Homo sapiens: one gene and its partners. The protein of the gene in region 1 interacts with the protein of each later gene in a pairwise test. Each region holds a gene or a part of one and is shown in the gene's direction. Other genes may lie near its edges.

The links.
Region 2: the proteins of PAM16 (region 1) and FEZ1 interact in a two-hybrid assay, tested with the Homo sapiens proteins (2 studies listed by BioGRID and IntAct).
Region 3: the proteins of PAM16 (region 1) and DNAJC15 interact in binary tests that used the Homo sapiens proteins (3 or more experiments, as listed by UniProt).

What each region holds. Positions count from the first base shown.
Region 1 is NC_000016.10:4,349,687-4,353,436, reverse strand, and holds the start of PAM16 (mitochondrial import inner membrane translocase subunit TIM16), read left to right. Parts: upstream 1-2,115; 5' UTR 2,116-2,202; coding exon 2,203-2,205; intron 2,206-3,750. UniProt on the Homo sapiens protein: Regulates ATP-dependent protein translocation into the mitochondrial matrix. Inhibits DNAJC19 stimulation of HSPA9/Mortalin ATPase activity.
Region 2 is NC_000011.10:125,489,559-125,493,308, reverse strand, and holds part of FEZ1 (fasciculation and elongation protein zeta-1), read left to right. Parts: intron 1-3,486; 5' UTR 3,487-3,531; coding exon 3,532-3,750. UniProt on the Homo sapiens protein: May be involved in axonal outgrowth as component of the network of molecules that regulate cellular morphology and axon guidance machinery.
Region 3 is NC_000013.11:43,021,474-43,025,223, forward strand, and holds the start of DNAJC15 (dnaJ homolog subfamily C member 15), read left to right. Parts: upstream 1-2,112; 5' UTR 2,113-2,153; coding exon 2,154-2,261; intron 2,262-3,750. UniProt on the Homo sapiens protein: Negative regulator of the mitochondrial respiratory chain. Prevents mitochondrial hyperpolarization state and restricts mitochondrial generation of ATP. Acts as an import component of the TIM23 translocase complex. Stimulates the ATPase activity of HSPA9.

The sequences.
Region 1 (3,750 bases):
CGGTGGCTCACGCCTGTAATCCGAGCACTTCGGGAGGCCAAGGCAGGCGGATCACGAGGTCAGGAGCACGAGACCATCCTGGCTAACACGGTGAAACCCCGTCTTTACTAAAAATACAAAAAATTAGCCGGACATGGTGGCCCATGCCTGTAGTCCCAGCTACTCAGGAGGCTGAGGCAAGAGAATCTCTTGAACCCAGGAAGCAGAGGTTGCAGTGAGCCGAGGTCATGCCACTGCACTCCAGGCTGGGCAACAGGGAGACGCTCTCAAAAAGACAAAAAACAAACATTAACCACATGTGTTGGCACATGCCTGTGGTCCCAGCTACTCAGAAAGCTGAGGTGAAAGTATCACTCAAGGCTGGAAGGTCAAGACTGCAGTGAGCCATGATCATGCTACTGTACTGCAGCCTGGGCAACAGAGTGAGACCCTATCTTGAAAAAAAAAAATTTTTTTTTGGCTGGGCACGGTGGCTTACACCTGTAATCCCAGCACTTTCGGAGGCTGAAGTGGGAGGATCACTTGAACCCAGGAGGTGGAGATCGCAGTGAGCCAAGATTGGGCCACTGCTCTCCAGCCTGGGTGACAGAGCAAGACTTCATCTCAAAAAAAAAAAAAAAAGGAAAAATAATTTAAAAATAAAAAACCGGTTGGGCACAGTGTCACATGCCTATAATCCCAGCACTTTGGGAGGCTGTGGCGGGTGGATCATTTGAGACCAGTAGTTCAAGACCAGCCTGGCCAACATGGTGAAACCCTGTCTCTACTAAAAATTCAAAAATTAATGGGGCATGGTGGTCCATGCCTGTAATCCCAGCTACTCAGGAGGCTAAAGCATGAGCATCGCCTGAACCTGGGAGGTGGAGGTTGCAGTGAGGCAGGATTGTGCCACTGGACTCCAGCCTGGGCGACAGGGTGAGACCCTGTCTCAAAATGATAAATAAAATAAATAAGTAAATTATGTGGTATGGTAGAGGGTGATCAGAGTCTTGGAAGAAAAATAGAGACAAGAAGGGAGGATAAGCCAGTCACAAAAGGCTGCACATTGTATGATTCAATTTCTTCTTTTTTTTCATTTTTCATTTTTACCTTTTTTTTTTTTTTTTTTTTTTTTGAGGCAGGGCCTGACTCTGTCACCCAGGCTGGAGTGCAGTGATCACAGCTCACTGCAGCCTGTACCTCCCGGGCTCAAGAGATCCACCACTCAGCCTCCCAAGTAGCTGGGATTACAGGCACCTGCCACCACACCCGGCTAATTTTTGTATTTGTAGAGATGGGGTTTCACCATGTTGCCCAGCCTGGCCTTGAGTTCCTGACCTCAAGCGATCCACCTCGGCCTCCCAAAGTTTTGAGATTGCAGGCATGAGCCACCACGCCTGGCTTGTATGATTCCATTTCTATGAAATGTCCGGAACCTGTGAATCCATAGAGAGAAAAATGAGTGGTTGACAGGGGCTGGGGGAGGGGGCTGGGGAGTGACTAATGGGTGATGAAAACGTTCTGGAACTAATAGTGGTGACAGTGGCACAGCTCTGTGAATAAAAGGCATTGGACTGTGCACTTGAAAATCATGAAATCTACAGTGTATGGATTATATCTCAATAAAGCTGTTACTTTTTTCATTCATGGAGGGCAAGTCACGGCGTTTTAAGGGGTCCAGGTGGGCCTCATTGAGGTGACATTTGAGCAAAGATTTGAAGAAGGGAACGAGCTTCTCAGGCAGGAGGAATGTGGATGAAACCTATTTTGAAGTTTTCTATTTTCTAAAGTATTTTTGAGAATTTAGCATCCTACTCCATATTATGTTCATTGATTTCATATAATGTTGCATTCCCAAATATTTTGGCAAAATCAAGGGCAGAAATCGCCCCACGTCTGACCGATGTGCTTAGCTGCTCCAGCGCACTGGGGTAAGCACGCGGGCAATTGAGACTCCCGGTAACGCCCCTTGCCCTCCCAAGCCCGCCCCCAGTTATCCAGAGCCCGACGCAGGCTCAGTCAAACCCCGCCTCCGACCCCGCCCCGAGCCGCTAAGACGCTCCCGGTGGCCCGCCCTTAGACTGAGGCAATGCGCATGCCCAGCGCCGTATCGCGCACGCGCTCTCTGCGGCTTTCCTTGACCTCTGACCCGCCGACCACGCTTGATCCCCGGCCGCGGGGCCAGGAAGTCGGAGTTTGAGCCCCGGAGGCAGAGCGGCTGCCATGGTGAGCCCCGAGTCGGGCGCTACCGGGGAGGGGAAGCCGAGTCGGGCCGGGGGCCGGGGGCCGGGCGGCGAGCTCCGGGCTGGGCGGCGGGCGCCGTGCGCCCCCTGCGTGCCCGGCGGGAAGCATGGTCTGGGGGCGTTGCACCCGGGGGAATCGAGGCCGGCAGCGGCGGCACCGGCGGCCTCAGGGCCAGGGAAAACCGTCTGCCTGGAAGAGGCCGGGCAAACGTGGTCGCGCTGTGCCTAGCCCGCGTGTGAGCGAGCAGCCGTGGGCAGCGGTGGAGCATGAGTCTGGCTGGTGAGCGCCTCCCCTGCCCTGGAACCTTACAGCGCTGCAGAGTCGATGTTGCTGCCCTGTTGTTATCCCCAGTGGAAAGCTGGCCTTTCCAGGGAAGTGGCTGACCTGGGACTTGAACTAGGCCCCGAGACACCGAGCACGGAGCGTTTGTGTGATATCGTTGGCACGTAGAGCCAGTCAACAGACCTGCGCCACACTGTCAGGTCACCTAGGGTAGCTTTAAAAGTGCAGGTTTGGCTGGGCGCGGTGGCTCACGCCTGTAATCCCAGCACTCTGGGAGGCCGAGGCGGCGGATCACGAGGTCAGGAGTTCGAGACCAGCCTGGCCAACATGATGAAACCCGGTCTCCACCAAAAAATTTAAAAAATTAGCCGGGTGGGGTGGTGCGCGCCTGTAGTCCAAGCTACCCGGGAGGCTGAGGCAGGACAGACGCTTGAACCCGCGAGACAGAGGTTGCAATGAGCCGAGATCCGCCAGTGCACTCTAGCCTGGGCGACAGGGTGAGACTGCGTCTCAAAAAAAAAATTATATATATGTATTATATATACCGTATACATTTATGTATACTACATATTATTATGTTATATATATTTTTATATATCATGTATTTTATATATATATATACACACACACACACATAATATATACATATGTTAGCCAGGCATGGTGGCACACACCTGTAATCCCAGCTGCTTGGGAAGTTGAGGCGCCAGTATCGCTTGAACCCAGGAGGCAGAGGCTGCAGTGAACCAAGATTGTGCCACTGCACTCCAGTCTGGGCGACAGGGCAAAACTCTCTCAAAAAGAAAAAGAGGGGGAAAAAAAAAGTTCAGGTTCTTGAGCTCTATCCCTGGAGGTTCTGCACACGTAAGTTCCCCAAGTGACTCTGTTGCAGCTGGTTCGGGGAGCCACTTCTTAACTAACATAGTAATAAGGATAATGTAACAGCTAACGGCGTACAAGTGCCAGCCCCTGAGCTAAGGCTTTATGTAGAGTCTCTCATTTAGTGTTTATGAAGTCCTGCTGTCATTGTCCTTATTTTACAGATAAGGAACCTGAGCCCCAGACAGTTTTGACTCCACCATAGTCATGCATCCCATGGTGTCAGAGACCTCTTTTGAGCCCAGCTCTGTCCCAAAACTCATGGGGTTTTTTTGGTTTGTTTTTTGAGATAGGATGTCTGTCTGTCGCCCCGGCTAGGATGCAGTGGAGCGATCCTAGCTCACTGCAGCCTTGAACTCCTAGGCT
Region 2 (3,750 bases), on another chromosome or scaffold:
AGGCTGGAGTGCAATGGCATGATCTCGGCTCACTGCAACCTCTGCCTCTTGGGCTCAAGCGATTCTCCTGCCTCAGCCTCCCAAGTAGCTGGGATTACAGGCACCTGCCACCATGCTCAGCTAATTTTTTTTTTTTGTATTTTTAGTAGAGACAGGGTTTTGCCATGTTGGCCAGGCTGGTCTTGAACTCCTGACCTCAGGTGATCCACGCACCTCAGCCTCCCAAAGTGCTGGGATTACAGGCATGAGCCACTGTGCCCAGCCCCCACATCACATTTCTATGTAAGTTAGCTATCCTGGTTTTCCTAGAATTATTTTTAACTTTTTTTTTTTTTTTTTTAAAGATAGGGTCTCACTTTGTCACCCAGGCTGGCATACAGTAGTGTGATCATAGCTCACTATAGCCTCAAACTCATGGGCTCAACCAATCCTCCTGCCTCAGCCTCTCCAGTTGCTGGGATTACAGGTGTGAGCCACCGTGCCCAGCTTTGATTTTTCTAGAATGATTGATATTTATTGGATGCTTTCTATATTCTGCACATTGTACTTAACACTTCAAAGATGATCTCATTTAGTCCAAAAAGTAATCTTCAAGGGAAGCACTGTTTTAAACTCCATTTTATAGATGATGAAATTGAGGCACAGTGAGGTTGATAACTTGCCCAAAGTCTCCCAACTAGGAGTGACAGGACCAGGACAGGAACCCAAAGCCTATGCTCTTAGCCATCACAGAGTACTGCCTTAATCAACACAAATCCCTGGGCTGTGAAAACTGTTTTACTCTCTACTGCATTCTGCCATCTTTTCTAATCTCACTTTTTTGTTGCTCAGGGATTCTTAATCTTTTTTGCACTATGACCTCCTTTGGTGGTATGGAGAAGCCTGTGGGCTCCTTCTCCAAATAATGTTTTTAAATGCATAAAATAAAATACTTAGTCTTGTAAAGGAAACCAATTTCATTGAAATATAGTTACCTTCAAAGAGCCTGCAGGGGTCTATGTACTGAAGATGAAGAACCCCTGACTGGCAATTACTTGTGTTTGCTTTAGAGCTGTGTTGTCCCTTGCGGTAGCCACAGGCCACATTTGACTGTTGAGCACTTGCAATGTGGCTAGTCCAAAGTGAGATGTACTGTAAATGGAAAATATACACTGGATTTCAAAGGGCTTAGTATAAAAAAAGAATAAAAACTGCCTCATTAGTTTTTTTGTGGATTACATTTTGAAATGGTAACACTTTGGATATATTGGATTAAATAAACATATTACTTCAATCAAAATGATTAATTAAATTATTGATTTATTAAAAATAACTCCTAAAGATGTTAACTCTGTACCAACACCTTCCTTATAACAAATGAGGAAATCAGGACCAATGATGCTTGTCACTCAGCCAGCCATTGGCAGATCTGTTGGCTCTCGAGCCTGTCTTCTTTCCAAGATATGGTACTACTTGTATATATTTTTGTATTCAAAGGTCCTATCATGTTGCCTTTGCAAACTGTAAATGCTCCAAATATGTTTTAAAGCAACGGTAATCAACTTAATCCCAGCAAAATCCCGGTACAAACTGGCAGTGTTCTTGCCTGGCATGTCCTTTGCCTTGCTTATTTAGAGTTTTAGTTTTGTAGGTAGAGATGGAGAATGGGCACTCCTAGGGCAAAATCCATGAATTTTGCTGTCTGGTTCCCCTCAGGAAGCGCCTCCAATTTGAGCACCTAACTATATCAATAACCCTATAGACCGAAGAGAAAAGCTTGGTAGCCTTTCTGTTGAGCGTGTAGAGAAGGGTATGATAGTCAGCAATGCTTGTGCTGCCTGAAACTGAAAATGGAAAACTGTATGTGGGAGATAGATCATTTTTTCAACGAGCACATATTGATTGACTGCCTAGCCACAGGGTAGGCAGTGTATATTTGGAGCCAGGGAAGATATCCAGAGGATTTCTGTGTCCTCGAGGAATTTAAGTTAAAATTGAATGGGGCCCAGATGTACACACAGATGGATAAATCACAGTTGGAAGCAGTGCATGAAGATGGCCCGATGAGGGGTAGAGGTCCCACAGTTGGTGGGAACTGAAGGGAGTTCTGTGTGTGCAGCGTTCCAGGGTGCAGTGCCCAAGATGGTTATGGAGTATGGCTTTGGAGCACATGGGTAGTTGGGTCTGTTTCTTACAGGATACAGGATAATAGATCATTTAGTCTATTCCTCTGCTCCTAGGCATATGCTCTATGTGTGGGAAAACCTTGGGTGCTTGTCTGGGCACGGTGGCTCATGCCTGTAATCCCAGAACTTTGGGAGGCTGAGGCAGGTAGATCACCTGAGGTCAGGAGTTCGAGACCAGCCTGGCCAACATGGTGAAACCCCATCTCTACTAATAATACAAAAATTAGCTGGGTGTGGTGGCACACGCAGCTACTTGGGAGGCCAAGGCATGAGGATTGGTGGAACCCAGAGGTGTAGGTTGCAGTGAGCTGAGATCACACCACTGCACTCCAGCCTGGGCCACAGAGTGAAGCTATGTCTCAAAAGCGAAACGAAACAAAAACAACTCAGGCATTTATTGGAAGGTCTCTATTGATGTTTTATTAGTTTTTTTAAAAAAATAAAAATAGAGATGGGACCTTACTATGTTGCCCAGGCTGGTCTTGAACTCCTGAGTGAGCTCAAATGATCCTCCCACCTCAACCTCCCAAAGTGCTGGGATTACAAGCATGAGCCACCACATCCAGCCAATGTTTTATTAGTTTCTACTATTTATTGATAAGGGTAGTAATATCTAGGTATACAAACCCTTATCCAAAACCCCTGGGGCCAGGCATTTGGAATTCAGATTATTTCAGATTTTGGAAAGTAGTAATAGAGTGTACATTCCGCATTTCATCCAGTGGGATCTGGGATAGCAATCTTTGTAATTAAAAAGTTAATATTTCTGCAGCAAAACACACAAAATGGGATAAATTAAAGCCATGAACAGCTTTATATTCATGTTGGTCATGTTTAGTTGCCAGATGAGTTTAGATCATGTCACATTTTGCTGCCAAACAAGTCATGGAGAATTTTCAGCTTTCAGATCACATAGTTAAGGATATGGATCTGTGGTAATAGTAATAGTAATAAAAATAATAATACTAAAACACCAACAGAAAGTATTCAATAATATTGGCACTTATTATCTTCCAGGTACTGTTTTAAGCACTCACCTGTGTTTACTCCTTTAGTCTTCTAACAGCCCTTTGAGGTGGGTTCAGTATTATATCTGTCTTGAGAAGAATAAGAAGCACAGAGCAATTAATCACTTGCCCAAGGTCACAGCTGGTAGGACAGAACAGAATGCAAACCTAGACGATCTTGTCCAGGAGCTTCGTACTTAACCAGTGCCTTGTTTTTTGGAGTAGGGAATTGGAAGCAGGTGTGTCTCTAAAGTTAACTCTATTATTTAGATTAGCCTGGTCTAAACTCACATTACGCTGTTCATTTCTTTTAGATAAACTCATCCTGAAAGTCGCTGTTGTTCTCCTGCTGAGCAAGAATGGAGGCCCCACTGGTGAGTCTGGATGAAGAGTTTGAGGACCTTCGACCCTCCTGCTCGGAGGACCCGGAGGAGAAGCCCCAGTGTTTCTATGGTTCATCTCCCCACCATCTCGAGGACCCCTCCCTCTCCGAGCTTGAGAATTTTTCTTCCGAAATAATCAGCTTCAAGTCCATGGAGGACCTCGTAAATGAATTTGATGAGAAGCTCAATGTCTGC
Region 3 (3,750 bases), on another chromosome or scaffold:
CACCACGCCCAGCTAATTTTTGTATTTTTAGTAGAGATGGGATTTCACCATGTTGGCCAGGATGGTCTCACTCTCTTGACCTCATGATGCACCCACCTTCGGCCTCCCAAAGTGCTGGGATTACAGGCATGAGCCACCGCGCCCAGCTGGGGATCAGAATTTTTAAGGACAACTCGGTGAGTAGGGGGAAGCCAGTGAGCTGGGAGTGCTGATTGGTCAGGTCAAAGATGAAATCACAGGGAGTCCAAGTTGTCTTGCGTTATCAGTTCCTGGGTGGGGGCCACGAGATCAGATGAGCCAGTTTATCGATCTGGGTGATGCCAGCTGATTCATCAAGTGCGGGGTCTGCAAAATATCTCAAGCACTGGTGGTAGTTTTTACAATAGTGATGTTAGCTCCAGCAGCAATTTGGGGAGGGTCAGAATCTTGTAGCCTCCAGCTGCATGACTCCTAAGTCATAATTTCTGATCTTGTGGCTAATTTGTTAGTCCTACAAAGGCAGTCTAGTCCCCAGGCAAGAAGGAGGTTTGTTTTGGGAAAGGGCTTTTATCATCTTTGTTTCAAACTATAAACTATGAATTACATTCCTCCCAAAGTTAGTTTGGCCTACGGCCAGGAATGTACAAGACAGCTTGGAGGTTAGAAGCAAGATGGTGTTGATTAGGTCAGATCTCTTTCTCAGTTGTAATTTTGCAATGGCGGTTTAATTCCCAGTCCAGTTCTCTTTATACTGCTATGCAATGCATGTGCTCATGTTCTGGTATGTACTATTATTCTGTGTCAGTGTTATCTTCCCTACAAGATTGTAAATTTCTAGGACCTAACTTCTTAGACATGCTAATAATATTAACTAAGTGAACAAATTAATAGACCCTCAAAACTTTAAATTCAGGAATAGAAAAAAAATAAAGCTTTTTCTTCCTGTCAGCTGATTTTGCAAAGGGTATAAGGAGCCAAAGAGCTGCCACGTTGGTACAGAAGTTGGAAAACACCATACGCTTCAACTGCTGGTTAATTTTTGCTCTAAAAACTTGATGGAGGCCAGGCGCGGTGACTCACGCCTGTAATCTCAGCACTTTGGGAGGCTGAAGCGGGCGGATCACCTGAGGTCAGGAGTTTGAGACCAGCCTGGCCAACATGGTGAAACCTCGTCTCTACTAAAAATACACAAATTAGCCAGGTGTGGTGGCACGTGCCTTTAATCCCAGGTACTCGGGAGGCAGAGGGTGCAGTGAGCCAGAGATTGCGCCACTGCACTCAGCCTGGGCAACAGAGCGAGACTCCATCTCAAAAAAAAAAAAAAGCTTAATAATAAAATGGGCTTTTATATATACAAATCAGCACAAACTCATTTGAGGGAGAGTAAGATTTACCTACTTGCTCACAACTTTTTTTCCCCTGCCTCAGGCTCCTGAGTAGCTGGGATTACAGGGACGCACCACCACACCCAGCTAATCTTTGTATTTTTAGTAGAGACGAGGTTTCACCATGTCGGCCAAGCTGGTGTGATCCACCCGCCTCGGTCTCCCAAAGTGCTGGGATTACAGCGTGAGCCACCGCACCCGGCCACAACTTTCTTCTGTGTAATTTCACCTTAAATACAGCCATTTACTTGGGGGTGGAGTAAGCAAATTGCCTCTTTAATTTCTCTCCCGGGGTGGTAGAACTGTGGCATTAAACAGAAGTGCGAACAGAAGTTGAGAGTGGGAAGAAAGGCTGCCCGGAAGGGGGTCAGGAAAGCTCAGGCAAGCCCACCCTCAGGCACTACAGCTAGACTCCGAGCTTACTGGGCAGTCATCTGATTCGACCAACATCAGTTCGCAGGGCTTAAGCCCAGTCCCTTACGGCGGCCTGGGGAGGGACCAGGCCCAAGTATATAAAGCTCCCTGAGGGTCCGCGTTGGCTTTGCGCCTGTGAGTGTGATTCAAGAACGTCCCAGTGCCCTTGGCTCCTTTCGGAGTGTGACCCCGTGCTTGCACGGGACACGTTACCCAGCTCGGGTGAGAAGGGTATCTTCCGGGAACCTCGCCTTTAATAGCACAACGAGCGCAGAGTCCACTGGATCTGCGAGAAGAAACCGCGCTAACTAGTTTGTCCCTACGGCCGCCTCGTAGTCACTGCCGCGGCGCCTTGAGTCTCCGGGCCGCCTTGCCATGGCTGCCCGTGGTGTCATCGCTCCAGTTGGCGAGAGTTTGCGCTACGCTGAGTACTTGCAGCCCTCGGCCAAACGGCCAGACGCCGACGTCGACCAGCAGAGACTGGTGAGTCCTGCCAGCGGCCCCCACCCCTCTCTGGCTCCCTTGTAGTTTCTGCTTCAGCCCCCTCTACCGCCTCACCCTTGAACCTTTGTACTCCCCCGCATTCGCTCACGGTCTGTGCCCTAGCGCTCACTTGTTCAGTGGAGAGACCGCTTTGTGCTGGGCTTTGACGCCTGGGCGTGGAAGACGGAGCAGTTCTGAGGATCTGTCTCCTCAAGGAGCTTCCAGTCTTGTCTGGGACACAAACCAGAAAACAGGCAATTGCAAATACAGTAAAATAAGTGCTGTATGTGGATTTTCCTATCTCATAGGAGGCCCTAAAAACGTCTTGCAGGGGACGTGGTGGGATCAGGGACGCTTCTTGGAGAAAGCTGTAGTTAAAAATTAAGATCTGAATGAATAAAAACAGTCCATTCAGCAAGGAGAAGGGGAAAAAGTGTTTCGGGTACCAGGACTACTGTCTCCAAAGTCTCCGGCACAGAAACAGGGCCCAGTTGGAAACTCCAAGTGGTGTATTCAGGATGAACTGTAGAGCTGGAAAAAGGAAGGGTCTAACAGAAAACTGTCCAACAGAAGCATATTGTGAGCCACATACGTATTTTTACGTTTTTTTTTTTTTTTTTTTTTTTTGAGACGGAGTCTCGCTCTGTCGCCCAGGCTGGAGTGCAGTGGCGCGATCTCGGCTCACTGCAAGCTCCGCCTCCCGGTTTCAGGCCATTCTCCTGCCTCAGCCTCCCAAGTAGCTGGGACTACAGGCGCCTGCCACCACTCCCGGCTAATTTTTTGTATTTTTAGTAGAGACGGGGGTTTCACCGTGTTAGCCAGGATGGTCTCGATCTGCTTACCTCGTGATCCGCCCGCCTCGGCCTCCCAAAGTGCTGGGATTACAGGCGTGAGCCACCGCGTCCGGCATATTTTTAAGTTTTTTGTAGCCATATTAAACAACTGAAGAGAAACAGGTGGGTTTGATTTTAACCATGTATTTTCTTTAACCTGATATATGCACAGTTGCATGGTAATTTTCAACATTCAATATGAAATATTGCCCAAGTGGTGGTTTAGGCTTGTAATCCCAGCGCTTTAGGAAGCCCAGGCAGGAGGATCACTTGAGGCCATGAGTTTGGAGGACAGCCTGGGCAACACAGGAGACCCCATCTCTGCTAAAAAAAAAAAAAAAAAATTAGCTGGGTGTGGTGGTGTGAGCCTGTAGTCCTAGCTGCTTGGGAGGCTGGGTCGGGAGAATCACTTGAGCCCAGGAGTTGAGGTTATAGTGAGCTATGATTTCGCCACTGCACTCCAGCCTGAGAGACAGAGCTAGACCCTGTCTCCAACAAAGAAAAAAAAATGAGGCAGTAGAGATTTAGAAAGTTTTAAGTAACTGGTCCAGGATCATCCCTGGTAAGTGGCAGATCTACGATTCCAAATGCTACACTTTTTCCCTTATGACTTGCTGACTCCTTAGAAATAAGGATTTCTGGATATAGTATTCAGT